Linked DNA regions of Homo sapiens: region 1 is linked to region 2. The links come from fine-mapping of genetic effects on gene expression. A gene starts in region 2. The other region holds a variant in brackets. All regions are shown on one strand. Distances are from middle to middle. Region 1 overlaps ACSF3 (acyl-CoA synthetase family member 3). Region 2 holds the start of ZNF778 (zinc finger protein 778).

Region 1 (4,325 bases), 120 kb before region 2:
ACCGTGAAGATTCAACCTCTGTGCTGAAGAGAACTGATGACTGGGCACTTCATTGTCCCAAGCCTGAGGGACTGAAAAGCTGGTTTGATGGGGCTGGTTCCGTTTTCCACATGCTTGGTGGGAGAATAAATCAGCACCTCGTTGGAGGGGACTTTGTCAGTATTTCTCAAAATTAAAGATGACCCAGCAATGTGACTTCCCGGCATCTGTGCCCTAGACACCCCGAGTGAACACAGCTGTAGGTGCCAGGACTCCCCCCTTCCCTCGGCCGACTCTGGCTAGGCCAGGCCCTTCTCACCCTCCATAGGAAGCCTCCCCACCAGGCCCCCGTCCGTTCCTCCTGCCCGTGGCCTCTCCTCATAGCGCGTGGGCTCTCTGGGAGCTGGGACCATGTCACACGGGGCCAGTCACATCTGTCACCTCCCAGGGGCTGGTGGCAGGAGTGCCCACCCACAGGCAGCGCTCTGGATTCCGCGCAGGAGAACAGCAGTTTCTTCTCAGCCTGCACTTTGAGTTTGCCCAGCCCAGCTGTGCACGTCAGCATCACCAGCTCTGCTGAGCTCTGGGTTTTGTGGGGAATCCACTCTTATTCTTCCGTGGCTTCGCCCTGCGGGGTGACTCAGGAATTTGTAGAAATGCCAAAAGGGGGGCTGTGCTCTGGTAGTGTGTGCTGTGTGTGCTCAGCGTGTGGTTAGCGTGTGCTCAGCGTGTGGTTACCGTGTGCACAGCACGAGCTTGAACTCGCTTTGTCAGAACTCGGTTCTTTGTGGTCTGCAGAAACCTTTTCTGAGCAGCAGCTTTAGTTAGAGGGAAGCCGTCATCCCCCTTTTATGTGCTTCTGTCATATTGAGAAACAGCTACACACAATGACAGGCACCTTCTATATTGAGTGAGTGTCGCCGGCCGTCCTAGTGCTCCGCTCCTTAGCACCCCAGAAAGCACCGTCCCCTGCTCCGAGCACCCAAGGCACTCCCTGTGGCTCTCAGCAGCGGAAGTCTGGCCTCGGGGCCGTAACCCAGAGCACCCAGTGCCCAGTCGGTTTTCTGTGTGTGGATTCTCCTTGTTTCTGTGCCCTCACACCTGTAAAGCAGTGCAGGATCGGTTGGAAGTGAGGAAGGAAGCGTGGTGGGGCCGCCCTGGTTTGCTGCTTTCTGAAGCTGGCACAGCCCACGTGCCGATCTCGTGTCTTGTGTCTGGTGAAGCCCAGTTGTTTTCTTGCCATTCTCTGGGTTTCTCTATGGTAGCAGAGTCCAGGTGTGTGGGCGGACCAGCCACTGCCCTGCCTCTGAACAGCTGTGGAGGGCTTCTAGAACATGGGTGCCTCGCGTCAGGAGATGATGTGGCCTGCAGGACTGACCGTTTGGTAGGATTCAGAGAAGACTCACACAGGACGTCCAAGCAGCCCGCGGAGCTGTGCTGAGGTTCAGGGCCCTGCGTGGCTCGTTTTCCTCCTGCCTGGGCCAGAGGCAGGAGATCCCTCAGCTGGCTGGGACAGGGGACTTCATTAAGAGCCCCAGGCTACCTGGGAGGCGGAGCTTGCAGTGAGCCGAGATCGTGCCACTGCACTCCAGCCTGGGTGACAGAGCGAGACTCCGTCTCAAAAAAAAAACAAAAGAGCCCCAGGCTAGTGGGGAAACCAGACACCCAAATCAAACAAGCAAAAACCAAGGCCAGTAGTTGAGGGTCTCAAGCACAAAACATACTTTGGCTCTGACAATTTTCATTGTCATGAAGTTTGTTTTGTTAGACAACTATGAAGTGTTGTGACGGTTTCAAACTAAGAGCAGAAAACAAAACTGTTTAGTACAAACCACAGACAATAACACAGTAGCTTTCCCCTCACAAGTTAATGAAAGAGATGTGCTGGAGAGAGAGAACCTGCTGAACATGGGCACAGATCCCACAGAGGGGGCGTGGTGTGT[G/T]GGAGGAGACTCGACAGGGTCATGGGGTCACTGCTGCCCGTTGTCGGGAGATAAGGCTCACAGCTTTATTTGATAATGTTGTCTTTAGCTTGTAAATGAACATGCTTCCCTTCCCCCATTGAGTGTTGAGTGTTGTGCCTGTGGGAAGCGTTATACACACAGCCTGGGACCTCAGCACAGATGCCCGTTGACAGGTGTCCCACCGGCCTTCCGGGTTCCAGCGCCAGGCCTGGTGCCTGCCCCAGGAGGATGAGCATTTGCATTGCCTGCACCTTATCGTGCCCTTCCACCTGCTGAAGCAGCTGTGCCTGCCGCTCTTGTGAACTGCGAACTTCCCCTTACCTCCTCTCTCTGGCTCGGGAGCTGGGTGAGTTTGAACTTGGCCTCCTTTGCTTTTCTGTGTGCGAACAAGTGGTTGCCTTGTTTGTTTACTGAACAGAGTGTGGTTGAGGCAAAATGCTGAGATGAAACCTAACCTAATATGTGTGTATTAGACGGTAGCATCATTGTCAAAATAATACTTGTTCAAAGTCCCTGAAAACCAAACGGACAACTTGACTACGCTTCGGCCACAGGCCTGGGACGCTGTCAGACCGAGGGCCGCTGAGTGCCCAGTGGCAGCAGAGCCCAGAGGGTGCTTCCCCCAGGAAGGGAGGCAGACCAGCCTATTCTTACTGTGAGTCGAGCAAAGCTTTGATTATAAAGGGCCAGGGATGCAGGAGCCTCGTGGAGAGTGCCACCCCTTCTTCTCGCTCTGGAATGCGGGGGCTGTGCCCCTGGCCTGTGTCCGCATCCTGGGGCGGTGTCCCGTGGGCAGTGTCCTCTGGCTGCAGAATGCATGTTGCAGAATTGGACCAGCCCTCACGCGTCAGGAGCGTTGGGCCCACAGGCGGAGGCACCCTGGCTTCTTCTCGGTCTCCTTTCTCTGAATGAAGAATTCCAGTGGACGGCGGGCCCGCGCGACCCCTCCCAGGGAGCCCTCGCTTCCTGCTGATTTATTTGTTATTTAGTAGTTAAGTTTTTGGGGGGAAAGGAGAGAATTATAGTTCAACCTAAAACACGTTTTCTAGCTCTGTGAATTGCCTGATTTAAAGCTTGGCTTGGCTGGGTGCAGTGGCTCACACCTGTAATTTCAACACTTTGGGAGGCCAAGGTGAGTGGATCACCGGAGGTCAGGAGTTGGAGACCAGTCTGGTCAACATGGTGAACCCCTCGTCTCTACTAACAATACAAAAATTAGCCAGGCATGGTGGTGCGCACCTATAATCCCAGCTAGTCAGGAGGCTGAGGCAGGAGAATCACTTGAACCCAGGAGGCGGAGGTTACAGTGAGCCCAGATCACACTACTGTACTCCAGCCTGGGTGACAGACCAAGACTGCATCTTAGATAGATAGATAGATAGACAGAGCGGGTGAGACTCCATCCCAGATAGATAATAAAGAGAGAGAGAGAAAGGAAAAAAAGGTGAGAGAGAGGAGAGAGAGAAAGAAAAGAAAAGAAGGAAAAAAGCATGGCTTACACCTGCCATAACCCCAGGACTTTGGACCAGCCTGGGCAATACAGTGAGACCTTGTCTCTACCAAAAAAAAAAAAAAAAGCTGGGTGTGGTATCACATGCTTGTGGGCCCAGCTACTCGGGAGGCTGAGGCCACAGGATGGCATGAGCCCAGGAAGTCGAGGCTGCAGTGAGCCATGATTGCATCACTACACTCCAGCCTGGGCGACACAGCAAGACCCTGTCTCAAAAAAACGAACCTTGGCACCTCACCACATTTCCACTGCGCACCAGTGTGGGAAGGGTCTGAGAGAGGCAGCGCCGTGTCTGCCCCGGGGGCGGGGTCTCCAGGCCATGCCTGTTGTGAGCGGGGGCTGTGCTGAGCTCTTCTCTGCACTTCCCCCTCTCACGGGTGGTTTTCCAGGCTCAGGATTCTAAAACCCATTATTCAGATGTACCTTAAGTGTGTTGAATTTTATATGCTTCTCCTTGGTTTTACCTAGTTTATTTCATTGTTTAGAATTTTGTGTGGTTTGGGAATCCTTAAACTCATGAAGTGAAATAGAAAGCTGAGATGCTGGGCACGTACGGAACGTTCCAGCAGTGTGGGTGAGAAAGGCTGGACGTGGCCTGTCTGGTGCGCTGCCTCATGACTGAAGGTGCAGCAGGCGTACCTGGCTGGGTACTGGGGAGGTGTTTTAAATCCTGTCTTGGCCACGTTTGGATGGGACAGTTGGGCACTCACGTCCTGTGCCTTGCCTTTCTCCAGCTCGGCCGCCTGTCAGTGCAATGCTGCCCCATGTGGTGCTCACCTTCCGGCGCCTGGGCTGCGCCTTGGCGTCCTGCCGGCTGGCGCCTGCGAGACACAGAGGAAGTGGTCTTCTGCACACAGCCCCAGTGGCCCGCT
Region 2 (4,388 bases):
CAAGAATAACAACAAAACCAATTTAATTCAGAAAAGGACTTATAATAAAGAAGATAACAGATGGCCAATAAGAACATGAAAAGATGATCAACATAACTAAACATTAGGGAAATGAAAACAAAAGCCACAGTGAGATCACATTACCCCGGTGGTGATGGCTCTTAGCCATTAAATAGGAGGTAACTGTTGGCTGGATGTGGTAAAGTTGGAACCTTGTGCACCTGCTCATGGGAATACAAAATGGTGCAGCAGCTCTGGAAAACAGGACAGTGGTTTCTCAAAACATCAGACAGAATTATCATGTGACCCAGCCATTCCACTTTTGCATATATATCCAAAAGTGCTGAGAACAAGGGTCCAGGATATTTTTGCACACGATGCTCAAAGCAACATTATTCACAATAGCCTGCTGGTGCCAAAGTCAAATTTTAATACATTCAGTTACTTAAAACATATCCGTGCGGTGGCTCACGCCTGTAATCTCAGCAGTCTGGGAGGCTGAGGCAGGAGGATCACGAGGTCAAGAGATAGATACCATCCTGGCTAACATGGTGAAACCCCATCTCTACTAAAAATACAAAAATTAGCTGGGCTTGGTGGCACGTGCCTGTAATCCCAGCTACTCTGGAGGCTGAGGCAGGAGAATCGCTTGAACCTGGGAGGCGGAGGTTGCGGTGAGCCAAGATTGTGCCCCTGCACTCCAGCCTGGTCGACAGAGCAAGACTTCGTCTCAAAAAAACAAAACAAAACAAAATTAAAAGAAAAAAAAACATATCCCAAGGGCAGGCACGGTGGCTGCAGTGGCTCACGTCTGTAATCCCACCACTTTGGGAGGCCGAGGCGGGTGGATCACCTGAAGTGAGAAGTTTGAGACCAGCCTGGCCAACATGGTGAAACTCCGTCTCTACTAAAAATTACAAGGTGGGCACCTGTAATCCCAGCTACTTGGGAGGCTGAGGCAGGAGAATAGCTGGAACCTGGGAGGCGGAGGTTGCAGTGAGCCAAGATCGTGCCACTGCACTCCAGCCTGGACGACAGAGGGAGACTCCGTATCAAAATTAATAAATAATAAATAAAACACATCCCAAACACTCATAGTGTTGAACCATTTAGCATGTGGTTGCTTTGTATACTTCGTGAAATTGTGTCCAATCTCTGCTAGCCATAGATAAGATAAATCCTGGGGCTCTAAAGACTGCAAGCCGTTGCTGCCCTTCAGAGCTTTGTGACTCAGACACCTGTCAGGCTGCTGAGAAACGTGATCTAGTCACGTCAGCCCTCCCCCTGTCTGATCTCCTTCTTCTCTGGGAGTTCTCTGCGCGCCCCCCGCCCACGCTCATTTTTTTCTCTTTTCTGAGTAGTGACCCCCAATTCGAAGCCTGTGGGTAATCTCATGGTGCGTGAGACTCCCTCACCCTCCAACCTGTCAAAGCTTGTGCGCCACCGCCACCTCCTGGGCACATCTTGTTTCTTAATCAGCCACGAAATCACGTGAACACTTCACATGTGGTTTTGTTTTGTTTTTCACATTTAGACTCCTGATCCGTTTGGAGTTTATCCCTGTGAGATCCAGAATTAATTTCATCATTTCTCAGACGGCTAACCATTTGTCTTAGCACCTTTCATTATAAACTGCATGTTTGTTCCACCGCTCTGAAATTATGTTTATGAACCAAATTTCCATGTTACTGGGTTGATGTCTGGATATTCCATTTGTTTCCTGTTCATGTGTCACTAGCACACAGTTTTAATGACAGAGGCTGTTTTCGCATCTGTCGGGCATTGCGCTTTTGTTTGTCCGCGTCGTCTGCGTTATGAGACATTTGTTCCTCCATGTGAACTCCAGGATCAATATGCCTGGTTCCAAAAAAAAAACCTTTTCGTATTGTTACTGGAATCATGTGACATTTCTGAATGAACCTTGGGAGAACCCCTGGTATCAGTGCTATTTTGCAACGTAGTATAGGTGGTCTTGGCTCCTACGGTACATTAGAAAAGTAACAGAAACGCATATTTGAAGCGAAAAATAGATGAACATTTACAGAAAAAAAAAATACCACATTGAAAATGCAGTGGAATCAACTGTTAAAAGTTCGGCGTGATGTTCAGACAGATAAAAAGGAACGGGGCCAGTGACTCCCTGCAGAGATCGAGAGAAGACCGAGCACTCCCAGCACCCGCGGGCTTCTCGCTGTGACCGAACCGCGGGCCGCGCTCGCGACGAGCACTTCCTGGCTGTACCCGCCCAACCGCGCCCTCCTGGTCTGTTCCGGCTCCGCAGTTGCGTCCAGAGGCCTGATCCTTACGTCCGCCTGGTCCTCCGGGCCTGTCTCTGCCTCCAGCCCGGTTCCCAAGGGCGCCCCGGGGCCCTCCCGCACCCTCGCGGAAGAAACTACTACCTCCCCGCACCATAGGCCAAAGCTTCGGCCCGGAGGCTGGAGGCGGAAGTGACGCCAAAGACGCGCCGGCCCCTCTTCCGGCGCCGGCCCCGCCTCCGCCTGTCTTACAGCTGATCCGGTTCTTGCGGCGGTGCGTGCTGGCGCCGGAGAGTTCCGCGCGTGTCCTCGGGCTGTCCGCGGGGAAGCTGGTCCGGGAGTGGGCGCCCGCCCGCCTGCCTCGCGCCTTGCGCCCCCGGCACCGCTTCCAGAAGGGAAAGTCGCCGCCGCTCGCGGTAGACCCGGGCAGCGCTTCCATTCCGCGGAGCTGGTGAGAGAGGGGCCCTTTGCTTCCTTCACTTTGAACAGGGCGTGTTTCTGTGAGAATCTGGCTTCGGCTTTGACGTTTTTTATTTGTTTCTGGCACATTGTGTTGGGACCGAAGCGTAAGGTAGACCCCTGAGCGCCCCGGGCGTGCAGCTCCCTGTGAAAGTTAGCCCGTGGGGGCCAGCGGGAGCGCGCGTCCCTCGCCGCCGGGACTTCCAGGCCCGGCCCTCGGGGCGGGAGGGATGCGGCCGTTGTCCCGCTGGTCTTGGAGTAATCGAATCCACGGTGAACAGTGTGTTTCGACTAACTGTATTTTTTCTCACGTTTTGCTTTAGAAAATCTGAATCTAATAAAAATGTGAACATCTGCTACAAGGAATATCCACTGCAATCGTTTTACTCCTTTTTAGCTTTGGGCCATGTTTTCTCTCTCCCCCAATAAATAAACCTTACGGTGAATTATTATTTGAGTGTAAGTAAGTTGAAATTAAACTGCACACATGATACTTAACCTTTAAATACTTGGTAAAGCGTCTGTTAAGGGTAAGGACATTATCCTACTGAAACCACAATATTAGTATTTCATCTAAGAAAATTAAAATTAGGCCGGGCGCGGTGGCTCACGCCTGTAATCCCAGCACTTTGGGAGGCCGAGGCGGGTGGATCACGAGGTCAGGAGACCGACACCATCCTGGCTAACACGGTGAAACCCCATCTCTACTAAAAATACAAAAAATTAGCCGGGCGTGGTGGCGGGCTCCTGTAGTCCCAGCTACTCTGGAGGCTGAGGCAGGAGAATGGCGTGAACCCGGGAGGCGGAGCTTGCAGTGAGCCGAGATGGCGCCACTGCACTCCAGCCTGGGCGACAGAGCGAGACTCCGTCTCAAAAAATAATAATAATAATTAAAAATAATAAGGTCCGCTGGGCACAGTGGCTCACGCCTGTAATCCTAGCACTTTGGGAGGCCGAGGCGGGTGGATCATCTGAGGTCGGGAGTTCAAGACCAGCCTGACTAACATGGAGAAATCCCGTCTCTACTAAAAGTACAAAATTAGCCTTGCATGGTGGCGCATGCCTGTAATCCCAGCTAGTCGGGAGGCTGAGGCAGGAGAATCGCTTGAACCTGGGTGGCACAGGTTGCGGTGAGCCAAGATCGTGCCATTGCACTCCAGCCTGGGCGACAGAGCAAGACTCCGTCTCAAAAAAATAAAAAAATAAAAAAATAAGAAGGAGGTCATCCACTGTCTACTTTGTGTAATATCTAGGATTCTCAACATTTTTCCAACATTGCGCTGTTGGGTATTTTGGGGACTAAGAGCCCTTCAAGGTTTATCTGTTCCCATCGTTTATGTCTTTTCACCTAGAACAACCCCTGTGGTTTCTCTATCATATTGACTTTGGTGTTGTTTTCTCGTGATACGTTTAAATATTCCTCCATTTCTTGCTGCTTCCTATGAACTTGTAATTGAATTCAGAGGAGAGGTTGGCAAAGGGCGGATAGTAAGCACCTTATGCCTTTGGGTCCACGAGGTCTCAGATGGCTGAGTTCAGCCTTAGTCACCTCATGTCCCATGTTAGCTGTTCCTTCTCTACTCTGTCCTGGTTCCAAGCCCCAGCCTATTTCTGAAAAGGTAAGTGGTCAGCTGCATAGATGACCGTTTAGAGGGTGTAGATTTACTCTGAAAT

The links. PIP is the estimated chance that this variant, and not a neighbour inherited with it, causes the effect.
Region 1: its variant is fine-mapped to the expression of ZNF778 in sigmoid colon (GTEx, PIP 0.95).

The regions. Positions count from the first base shown.
Region 1 is chr16:89,096,475-89,100,799 of GRCh38, forward strand. It overlaps ACSF3 (acyl-CoA synthetase family member 3), which reads left to right. Exons shown (of 11, transcript NM_001243279.3): 2 at 2,117-2,289; 3 at 4,188-4,325. The coding sequence starts at 4,208. Among named protein-coding and RNA genes, the nearest start is that of ACSF3, 4.8 kb to the left of the region's middle. The variant G/T (reference allele first, on the strand shown) is at 1,923.
Region 2 is chr16:89,215,205-89,219,592 of GRCh38, forward strand. It overlaps ZNF778 (zinc finger protein 778), which reads left to right and starts at 2,499. Exons shown (of 7, transcript NM_001201407.2): 1 at 2,499-2,706. ZNF778-DT (ZNF778 divergent transcript) reads right to left here and starts at 2,449. Exons shown (of 1, transcript NR_186410.1): 1 at 1-2,449. RefSeq lists enhancers at 1,037-1,331, 2,281-2,330, 2,855-3,385, 3,386-3,915.